Linked DNA regions of Homo sapiens. The protein of the gene in region 3 interacts with the protein of the main gene of each other region in a pairwise test. Each region holds a gene or a part of one and is shown on either strand. Other genes may lie near its edges. The genes, in order: MRRF, TGFBI and FAM9B.

Region 1 (3,651 bases), on a different chromosome or scaffold from region 3:
ACTTACAGCACCCAGATAAAAAAAACAGAACATTCTTAGCATGTCAAAAGTCCCCTTTGTGCTTCTTTCTAGTAAGTACTACCCTTGACCCTTTGCAGATAACTATTATTCTGACTTCTAGTAGCATGGATTCGTTTTCTCTTTTTTTTTACTTTTCAGTTTATATTCTCATATCTGGCCTTTGTACTGTACAGTTTTGTTTTCTTGTGTCTGGCCTCTGTGTTCAACATCATGTTTGTGAGACTCATTTAAATTTTTGTGTGTGTTCATTCTTTCTCATGGTTGCATAGTATTTCATTCATAAATATTACTATTCATTCCAATATTGACAGGCATATCTTTAAATTATTAATGTGCATATTTGGTTTTAAAAGTTCAAAGTTGAAGATATTATTTCAGTTGCTTCTGGCTTCTGTTGTTGCTCTTGGAAAGTGTTCTAAGTTTTAATCCTTCATGGATAATTTGTCTTTTCTCTTGGGCGTTTATAAAGATCTCTTTGTCCTTTGTTTTCTGCAGTCACAACATGTCTAGGTGTGAATTTACTTTTATTGTCCTATTTGAAACTTGTGTTTCTCAATCCGAAGATCCACATCTTTTTTTTTTTTCTTTGATCTGTCGCCCAGGCTGAAGTGCAGTGGCACTGATCTCGGCTCACTGCAACCTCCACCTCCCGGGTTCAAGCGATTCTCCTGCCCCAGCCTCCCGAGTAGCCGGGATTACAGGCACACGCCACCACGCCCAGCTAATTTTTGTAATTTTAGTAGAGATGGAGTTTCACCATTTTGGTCAGGCTGATCTTGAACTCCTGACCTCGTGATCTGCCTGCCTCGGCCCCACAAAGTGCTGGGATTATAGGCATGAGCCACTGCGCCCAGCCCCACATCTTCTATCAGTTCTGAAAAAAAACCTAAGCCATTGGTTTCAAAGCATAATGGTAACATGGGCAAATAAATGTTTTTAAAAATCACTCTGTTGCTTACCAGTTGTTTACTTTGGACGAAACATTTAAATGGCTTGTGCCTTAGATTTCTCATCTGTACCATGGGGACAATACTAATCACTATTCTTCCTACCTCAGAGAGCTATCTTGGATAGCAAGGAGGAGAATGTACTTGAAATTGCATTGCAAGTTATAATATGCCACCCAAATAGTACAGGATTGAGTTCACTGTAGATGTTCAACAAAATTTATTTAATGAATCTCAATAAATATTTGTTGAATGTTTAATGAATAAACAGTGTAAATATTGTTTAAAATTTTATTGTTTTTCTCCTTCCCCATTCCCTATAAAAGAAATGCAAGAATATTTGCATCACTCACAGAAATTATCTATGTATACACCTAGAATGTATATGAAAAATCACTACGATGATTTAGACATAAAATGAAATTATATTCAGCTCCCAATGCTGTTGATTTTCTAAAATATAAGCCATTGTCTCTACCATTGGTAGTGTTTAATGTCTGTAAACTACTATTGTTCCTTTTGTCTGTACTCTACCAGCCATCAGATATTGTGTGCATATCCTTGTCTTAGTGTCCATTTTTAATGAATTAATGTATTTCCTGTCTCTCTAATTAGATTTTGTGGAGATGGGCTAGTGAAAAGTTCATGGGTTTAAAATTAGGCAGATCTGGAACCAGATCTTGACTTTTCCATTTCCTGACCTGTGACATTAGGCAAATAGCTTTACCTTTCTCATCTTCTGTTTACTTTTCTGAAAAGTAAGGGATTAATTTAGTTATGGATTCCCTGCCATGTGTATAGTGTTCTTTTAGGTGTTTGAATGACTTAATTTGTATCCTTGTAGCAACCTTGCAATATAGATGTTACTATTCTTTTACAGGTAGGGAACTTGATACTCAGAAAGATAACTTGCCTAAGGTCATAAAGCTAGTATGCATTATAGCCAGACTTCTAACCTGGGGTGTCTGATTATAAAGTGTGCCCCCTCACTAGTATCTGAGAAGGTGTTTAGCACAGTTGACACTCAGTTAATATAGGCTCTTTTTTAGTGGAGCGATAATGTTTTATAATTTTCTAACACTTGACATTTTTCCCTGTACATAGTAGGTACTTCTTCACCAATTGCTTATTGGCTCTGTTTATGCTGCTGTTGTTTTATTCACTGAATGTTCACTTTTTAGCCAAAGGGAAAGGACAGTCCCAAACCAGAGTGAATATTAATGCTGCCTTGGTTGAGGATATAATCAACTTGGAAGAGGTGAATGAAGAAATGAAGTCTGTGATAGAAGCTCTCAAGGATAATTTCAATAAGACTCTCAATATAAGGACCTCACCAGGTTAGTGACTGAACCAATGTTCTGGGGAGGGATGTAATGGAAAGAGCATGGGTTTGGCAGAGTTGAGTTTTAGTCCCAGCTTTGCCATTTACTAACTGGTGGCCATGGGCAGTTACTTTGCTTTTCTGGTCCTCGGTTTTCTTGTTTGATTCTTAACTTACAGCTTTGGGGTGGTAGTTAAAATAAATGAGGTAACGTATTATGGTTCTAGCATAGTGCCTGGCGCATAGTTAACACTACATTTATTTATCCATGCTGCAAATTTTTGTCTACTTTGGAACTAGGCATTGTGCTAGTGCATAGTAGTAAACAAAAATAGGTATTGTCTTTGCTATCATGGAATTAGACTCTCAGAAAAATGAGATTTTTATTATGAATGTACTATAAACACATCTAGGTATTTAGTCTCATAGTAACTGACATCTTTGGTCCGATTTTTCCAATTTGTCCTGTTTGGCAGTTCTTATCCCTTACTGGGAACCAAATGAATACAGACCTGCCCACGTGAGGCATTTCTATACCCCTGAGCTTGACCAGGAAGATTCCGTTTGGGTTAATAACTTCCTGAAAGTGGCTTTTCTAAGTGGGAAATGTCAGAACTGTCTAGGCCAACTGTTTGCAGATGTGATGGAGAAGTGAGTTGTCAGCTGATGGTGCAAGCAGGCAGGAAAAATCCAGTTGCTGTTAAATTAGGCTTTTGCAAATTGTCATCATCCTAAAGTCAAACCTGGGACCCCTCTCTTAAGGTACCTGTGGGAGCTTGGGCTGCTTCTACTCACATCTTGATTAGGATAGTTCATAAGAAAACTAGAAATATTTCGCTCTTAAGAAAACCAAGTGAAAAATACAGCTCCACTTATAAACACTATCAGAAACATTACCGAGTTCAGAGATGAGATCCAGTGTGAAACTAGAAGACTGTTCCCGTCACTTGTCAACCTTTGGGCTGGGGCATTTCTGCCTTTGCTGACAGTAGAGCGTGCCATTCAATCTCTCTCAACTGTTTATTTTAAACTTGCTTATTATTTTAGGTATGAAACTGATAAAGTGCTCTGTCTCCCCTGTGTTTTCTGGCCTGTTAACATTCTGCAGCCGAAACCAGAGAGCAGTTTGAGAGGAGCTCAGGGAGAAATGTGATACTTAAAATTAGCCAGCAAGCTCCACTCTTGTTGAACTTAAAAAGATGATGGGCCTGGAAAGAGGTTGGGAGTGTAATTTGTTAAATGTTAACCTCTGAGAAAATGAGGGGCAGGAATGAGGCTGAGGGAGATTCTCGCTGGGGACAGATTGAGGGAAAAGGATTTGATGCATTATGTCGATACGGATTTAGGAATGGTAACCACCAC
Region 2 (3,651 bases), on a different chromosome or scaffold from region 3:
ATCGCCTTCCCGTTGATAGTGAGCATGTCCCCGCTGCAGCCCACCTCCAGTGTCGTGCCCTCCAGGGTCTCTACAGACAGCCCCGCAACGATGGCTTCAGCACACATAGCTGACTTCAAGATGTGGTTGTTCAGCAGGTCTGGGGTCCAAACAGACTCAGGTCAAGTCAGGGTCCACTCCACGATAACCTCAGGGACCACTTGCAGCCTGCCCATGCTGTGAGGATCCTGTTCTCTCAGATGAGGACCCTCAGATGAGGCTGGGGCACCACAGGGCCCAGATCCTCCTCGCCTTCTGCCTGCTGCCCTAGAAAACCAGCTGGGGCCCTGTGGCCACTTTCCAGCTGTGGGACCCTGGGAGAGTCATTTAGCCTCTTTGAACCTCAACTTCCTTATCAGTCAAGTGGACATAAGAATTGCATTCATCTCCTAGGGCTGCTGTGGGGATGACATGAAATTCTGAACCTAAAGCACTCGGCACGGGGCCTGACAACAGAGTAAATGCTCAACAAATGTTAGTGATTAGCTTATTTGTAGCTGAACTTCAGGGATACAAGAAAAACTCAAGAGAGCCTACCACGGGATTTTAGAAATCTACTCACCTTTATAAAAATGTAAACTGTAGTAGGAAAAGACGAAAAGTGTACAAATGACAGCTTTGAGTTATTTGTGTACACTTTATTTGTCCAGTTTTCTGTTCATTTAGCCCAAGGGTCTACTAGCTGCCAGGATATATCTTAAGGTTTGGTGATCAGTAAGACTTGGCCTTTGCCATCCCATTCACCACACCCATAAATAGTAAGTATAATAATTTATTTGCTTATCCAAGTGCTACTTTAGGGGGCAGGGCAGGGCTGAGGCCCAAAGGGGGCTCCTGACCCATCGTGACTCCTGCTGGTCTCCATTGCCTCGGAGAGCCCAGACAGGCTGGATGGAGGCAAATGCAAGGACCAGTCAAGGAGGAGGAGCCCCCCCCAACCCCAGGCTGAGCAGGTGGCCTGGACTGCTGCTCACCAAGGTCACCGAGGCTCTATGTCCCATATTCTCACCACGGAGGCGAGTTTCAATCTGATCCCAAGTGTGGGAACCAAAACCACACTGTCATAGGCAGGAGGAAGCTCTGAGGCCCTGCAAGGCATGGGGCTGCTGCAGACGAGTTGATGGCCTTGGAAGCCCGTGCTGGCCACATTCAGCCAGAGGGAAAGAAAAAGGGTGAGAAGGCCTATGGGAATGAGGCCTTGGGGATTGAGCTTCTTAGAGAAGGAAGGTGAAGTCCACGATGTGGTAGAGGAACCTGCCAGGGCCACTTGGAGGGTGAGCAGGGCCAGGGCTGGAAACTAGTCTTCAAACTGGACACACCACCAGCCCTGGCTGCTTCTCGCCTGCCTGCCTGCCAACCTGCCGGTAACAGCAGGAGACTGTTGGGTGTGGGGCAAGGACCTCTTCCTTCCAGTCTGCAGCGATGGCACCAAACAGAGTGTCCTTGCTCTGAACCAGCTGGTTAGTGAGTAGGAAAAGGCAGATTTGCAAAAGGGACGAAGTAGGGGCCTTTTTTTTCTTACAGTTTATAATAAGGAGTTTTTTTTGTTTTGTTTTGTTTTGTTTTGTTTTTTTCTTTTGAGAGAGTCTAGCTTTGTTGCCCAGGCTGGAGTGCAGTGGCATGATCTGGGCTTATTGCAACTTCTGCCTCCCAGGTTCAAGTGATTCTCCTACCTCAGCCTCCTGAGTAGCTGGGATTACAGGTGGCCACCACCACACCCAGCTAATTTTTGTATTTTTAGTAGAGACGGGGTTTTACCATGTTGGCCAGGCTGGTCTTGAACTCTCAGCCTCAAGTGATCTGCCCGCCTTGGCTTCCCAAAGTGCTGGGATTATAACCATGCCCGGCCTATAGTAAGGAGTTCTGAGGTCTCCAAAGCAAAGAATGTGCTCTGTGCAAATCATGTTTTAATAGGGAATACAGTTCTAAAAGCCTTTGGGCCCCTTAAGGCTATGTGTGTCCCAATGCCCGCCCTCATTCCCCATTTTGTGCTGTGAGTATCTCTGTCATTGCACTCACCAAATCAGATCCCAACAACCTGTTTTAAAGCCTGCCATTTCTACTAGGTCTTAAGTTTCTTGGAGGCAAAGGCTGTGCTGTATTCATTTTCATGGCCTCTGTCCCCAGTGCCGGCCAGGCGCATAGAGGTACCATAATCACCTGGACACGGAACAAATCCCGTCTTCCCATCTGTGCTTTCAGAAATATGCCCTTTCCCATCCCTGCACAGATAGAAGGAGAACACTTTAAATGTATAGATGTATAGGGTGTCTGAAATGCATTAGACATTTTATATAGCACATTGACACGGTGGGTTTAAATAGATTCAAAAGAAATCAAGTGATCCTGGAATATGTTTGAGAGGAAAAGTGTGGTGGGGTACATCAGAGACCTGGGGCGTACCCTGCATTTCAGGGGACTCAGGCAGCAGCTTTGTGCTCATGGCCTTTCAGAGGTCCTGGAGTAGAAAGGGGCAGGGTAGGGGGAAGGCAGAGTCCTCCTTTCTCATCTCCAAAAGGAAAACATGTGAAAACACGTTAGCTCCTTCCTTCCCTCTCCTGCAGCAATAATCAATGCACTGCCTAACTTAGCAGCTCATTGAGGAGGGCATGACGAAATCTGAAATGGAGAGTCAAAAGTTGACTACTATAACTGTTTTTTTTTTTTTTTTTCTTGAGACGGAGTGTCGCTGTGTCACCCAGGCTGGAGTGCAGTGGTGCAAGCTTGGCTCACTGCAACCTCCACCTCCTGGGTTCAAGTGGTTCTCCTGCCTCAGCCCCTGAGTAACTGGGATTACAGGTGCCCACCACCATGCCCAGCTAATTTTTGTATTTTTAGTAGAGATGGGGTTTCGCCATGTTGGCCAGGCTGGTCTCAAATTCCAGATCTCAGGTGATCCGCCCACCTTGTCCTCCCAAAGTGCTGATATTAAAGGCGTGAGTCACTGTGCCTGGCCTATGGCTGGTTTTTAACTGTAATTTTGGTTTATCCATAAATCCCCTAGCCACAGAGAAGAATAGTGAAGCGTGGGCATGAGGAATCCATTTCAAGGGTGCCAGTATCTGCCACCCCCACACCTGTAAGCTGTTGCTCTACCTATTAGCCTTGCTCTGGCCTTGGCTATTCCAGCCTTTCACTCTCCCTGTTTCTGGCCAGGGCCAGCTATGGGTCTCCAGCTATGCCTCTCTTCAGTCCAGCTCTCCCAGACAAAAGCTGCTGGATTCTGTAGTCAGCCCTCAGAGTAGTGTGGCTGCTAGAGACACGGTTAGCTGAAGCAACAGGACAGGATGACCCCAGCCCATGGCTGCAGTGGATATCCTGAGGGTCACCTCATGGCAGGTGGTATGTTCATCTTGGACCAGAGCAGGTCTTGGGCTCAATCTAGCTGCACAAATGAGGCAGCAGCAGGAGCCAAAGGATGCTCACCTCTCAGGGCTTCTGGGTCGCCCAGGATACGGTTCAAAGTCTCACTAGGGATCTTCTCGAAGGCCTCATTGGTCGGGGCCAAAAGCGTGTACTGGCCGTTACCTTCAAGCATCGTGTTGAGCCCTGATGCAGCCACAGCAGCCTGTGGGGAGGAGAGAAGATGGAGTGCTCCCTGAAGACTCTGGC
Region 3 (3,751 bases):
CAATCAAAAAGGTAAGAAAAATTTATCAAATAGATTACATTAAATACGTACGTTAAATGCTACATATGAGAAGCCATTTAAGACAGTCTTGTCGTCCACTAATTCATATAACCTACTGCAACAGTTGTATGACTGAAAACAATTTTCATAAACTACAGATAACTCCTAAAACATACCTGCAGTATCTTCTGGCTTCTTGGTATTAGCCCTGTAAAAAAAGTTACATCAAAATTTTAACAAAATACTACACAAAATGCCATGTTTGTTGGGAAAAGAAATGTCTTATGTGAAATGTTCTGCATAGAATAGAACAGTGATGACATGGTCCAAAGCTGACTTTTCCTAAAAGACCCTATCCGACAGGCAAAAGTGACTTAAACACTTTACCCCGTGTGTTCATCTGTTTCAGCAAAAGGTTCTCTTTCCCCATGCTCATCAGTTACATCTTCCTCCCTTGTTTCTGTAAAACGGTTTCTTTCCTCACATTCATCACGGACTGGATCCTTTCCTGCATTAAAATGTAAAAGACAAACCTTTTTTAGAGGAAGATGCTGCTGTGGACATTTTTTGTGGAGAAATGTACTAGTTGTAGACTTTTTTGGGGGGGGGGGGCTCTCTGCCAATTAAAGCTTTAAAGCAGAGCTATACATGGAATCACCGGTTCCTGACCATTTTATCGAGGGACTTTTGGAAGCCCTTCGGGTTCAGGTTCCAGTAAACAACGTACTACAGTTCAGACCCCTTGGATGTCAGGACTGCACCCATGGAGAAGAGCTGCTCTGAGAGCATCTGTAACCCTGCTATGAGGGGGAGCCTTCCACGGGGAAGCCTAAGGCCCTTGAGCCTGCTTTGAAAACCTGGCGCATCTTAGCACGTGCACAATGGACTCCAGAGCCACGAAGGGGCCTGGGGCCTCGGGCTGCCCCTGTGCCCCCAGCGCAGAAAGCAGACAGACCGTCCTCTTGGGCGTGCACCTTCTTCTGGGTCCCCTTGGGCTGTATTTACCTGCATGCTTCTTCCCCCAGGCCGCCATAAATTGAGCCTCCAACTGGGCCTTGGCAGCCCTCCTGCCCACAGGATCCGTGGCTGGTTGTCCTGGGAAGCTAGAGGCGATCCCCGAACCTGGTGAGCGCAAAGACACACTAAGGAAGCTAAGGAAACCTGGCATCGGAAAGGAAAGCCATTGGGATCACAGGTTCAAGAAGGGTGGGGCTGGCCCGCCCTGGGTCTCATGTGGGAGCAGGAAGGGACGGAAAAGATGCCAGTGTCCCCTCCTGTCCTGGCCCGTCCAGCCCGTCCCCGGGGCTGGCTGCAAAGCTCACAGCTGCCCCTCACACCTGAACTCCACGGCCTCTGCGGGATCCTCGCCGCCCTTTTGGGACAGAACTCAGCCCTACCTCTGAGTCACCTAGCGACCCCATGTGGCTGGGAGGGCCGCTGGGTGACACAGGATCTCCCCAGCCACCTCTAGGGGAATGTCAGGGGCTGCACTGCCACTCGCCCCCCTGGACGCACAGGGGACCCCCGGTGACCCCCGGTGACCCCAAGTGTCCTGTCCTGTCGGGCGGCCAGGCAGGAGGGCCCCACTCAGACTGTCCCCCACAACACCCCCGCCTCACTCCCACTTCTCCCCCCCTCGGCCCCTCCCCCCAACACATGCACAAGCCCCCAGGACCCTCCCGGGCCCTAGGGATCACCCAGGCAGCTCCAGCTCCCTCCCTGCCCTGGCCCACCCCAGCCCACCCTAGCCCACCCTCAGGGCCTCGCCCTGACCCAGGCCCCAGGCGACGACGCTGGGGCCATTTCCTCACAGGTCGGCGGGCTGCCCAGCGCTTCACACCCTGGTTCCCAGAGGGCCTCGTGCCTGCGTTCCCGCCTCCCCACCACGAGTGCTTCACCTGAGGGACCCCTGATGTGGCGCCCTCAAAGAACCTGCAGGCAGCGGCACCACTAGGACCTCTTAGAAAACGGGTCCTCTCAGGAAGCTGAGGCAGGAGAATTGCTTGAACCCAGGAGGCGGAGGTTGCAGTGAGCCCAGATCACACCACTGCACTGCAGCCTAGGCAGCAAGAGCCAGACTCCGTCCCAAAAAAAACAAAACAAAAAAACAAAAAAAAAGAAAAGTAAAGAAAACGGGTCCTCAGTTCTCGTGAGAGCTGCAGGCAGGACTTCCTGCGCTCCTCGCTGATTGGTCGGCTCAGTGCACATGCGTGTGACGGGCTGTGTGGGGCCAGGCCCCCTGCTGGCACGCCCTCACCCTTCCCCTAAGTGACAGCCCGTGGTTGCTGTGGACTGGGGTGGGGGTGGCCCTTTGGGGCCTCTGTCCCCACAATCTTTCAGCTTCTCCTCCTGGGGAGAGACACAAGGACTTGGGATGGAGGCCAAGTGGACAGGGCCTAGAACCTCGCCCTGGGGCTTGTTCCAGCCACCCCTGCCCCTTTGGCTAGAATGGCCATCACCCTGTGGGTGGAGCCCAGGCTCCCTCCCATGCCCTGTGTGCTTCCAACATGCCCAGCTGCGTCCTTTTTAATCAATGGATTGTGCTTTTATCGTTTGTGTTTGTTGGTTTTTGAGACTGAGTCTCACTCTATTGCCCAGGCTGGAGTGCAGTGGCAAGATCTCAGCTCACTGCAATCTCCCCTTCCCAGGTTCCAGCGATTCTCCTGCCTCAGCCTCCCGAGGAGCTGGGATTACAGGAGCCCAACACCACGCCCTGTTGTTGTTGTTGTTGTTGTTGTTGTTGTTGTTGTTGTTGTTATTATTATTATTGCATATTCGGTAGAGACAGGGTTTCACCATGTTGTCCAGGCTGGTCTCGAACTCCTGACCTCAGTTGATCCGCATGCCTTGGCCTCCCAAAGTGCTGGGATTACAGGCGTGAGCCACCGTGCCCAGCCCATAACCTTTTTTGTTTCCTCACTACTTTTCTTTCTCATCCTCATGCCCCAGACTTGCCCACAAACCTTCATACTCCAGACTTATCCAGACATATGCCACAACCTTCACCCACAAATTAATGCCTTAATACTTATCGTTAACTCAGCTTTTTCCCACCTCCGATCCCCTGTAATAGGGAGAGAGTTGTTTCGGAGTTGGGAGTGAATAAATATTGCCTAAAGTTTGTAAATCAAGATACAGAGTTTCATTATACTATTGAAATTATAAAGGCAGTCATCAGGAAAACTAATCCACAGCCTTAAATGCCTATATAACCAAAAAGAGCACACACAAAGCATACAAATCCTGTAGTAAAAGTTGGAAAATAAAGAAAATACTACAGAGACCATAACATAACATAAAAGAACAGAATTAAGGCCAAGTGAATCTGTTGAGCAAGAAATATGAATGAGATAAACTCGCATTCTAAAGGAAATGACTTCCAACTTGGATCAAAATAAAAACCTAAGTATATGCTGTATGTAAGAATGGAATTAAACAAAATGATACAAAAAGTACATATCAGAAAAATATGAAGAAAAGGAAAATATGGATCTGAGAATTGATATCTCATGAATGTAAAATAATGCAAAAAATAAATGAATAAACTAAAGGCAGAGTACACTGAACAAGAGAAGGGCACAATCTACTCTGACAATCTCACATGAATCATTTTGTGCTTAACACAGCATCAATGTGCCTAAACCCAAAACCGTAGAAAATAAAAGCAAAACAATCAATGAAAATGAACAGTGATATGAGAGTTTAAGCTCCGTCTGTCCAGGAGAGACCAAATACAAATGTATTGTCTTGG

Evidence for each region.
Region 1: the proteins of FAM9B (region 3) and MRRF interact in binary tests that used the Homo sapiens proteins (3 or more experiments, as listed by UniProt).
Region 2: the proteins of FAM9B (region 3) and TGFBI interact in binary tests that used the Homo sapiens proteins (3 or more experiments, as listed by UniProt).

Annotation. Positions count from the first base shown.
Region 1 is NC_000009.12:122,278,294-122,281,944, forward strand, and holds part of MRRF (ribosome-recycling factor, mitochondrial isoform 1 precursor), read left to right. Parts: intron 1-2,149; coding exon 2,150-2,305; intron 2,306-3,651. UniProt on the Homo sapiens protein: Responsible for the disassembly of ribosomes from messenger RNA at the termination of mitochondrial protein biosynthesis. Acts in collaboration with GFM2. Promotes mitochondrial ribosome recycling by dissolution of intersubunit contacts.
Region 2 is NC_000005.10:136,049,395-136,053,045, reverse strand, and holds part of TGFBI (transforming growth factor-beta-induced protein ig-h3 precursor), read right to left. Parts: intron 3,608-3,651; coding exon 3,466-3,607; intron 140-3,465; coding exon 1-139.
Region 3 is NC_000023.11:9,031,954-9,035,704, forward strand, and holds the start of FAM9B (protein FAM9B), read right to left. Parts: upstream 2,175-3,751; 5' UTR 1,899-2,174; intron 1,331-1,898; exon of another isoform or gene 1,169-1,330; coding exon of another isoform or gene 1,034-1,168; coding exon 1,006-1,033; intron 509-1,005; coding exon 388-508; intron 209-387; coding exon 177-208; intron 1-176. UniProt on the Homo sapiens protein: May play a role in meiosis.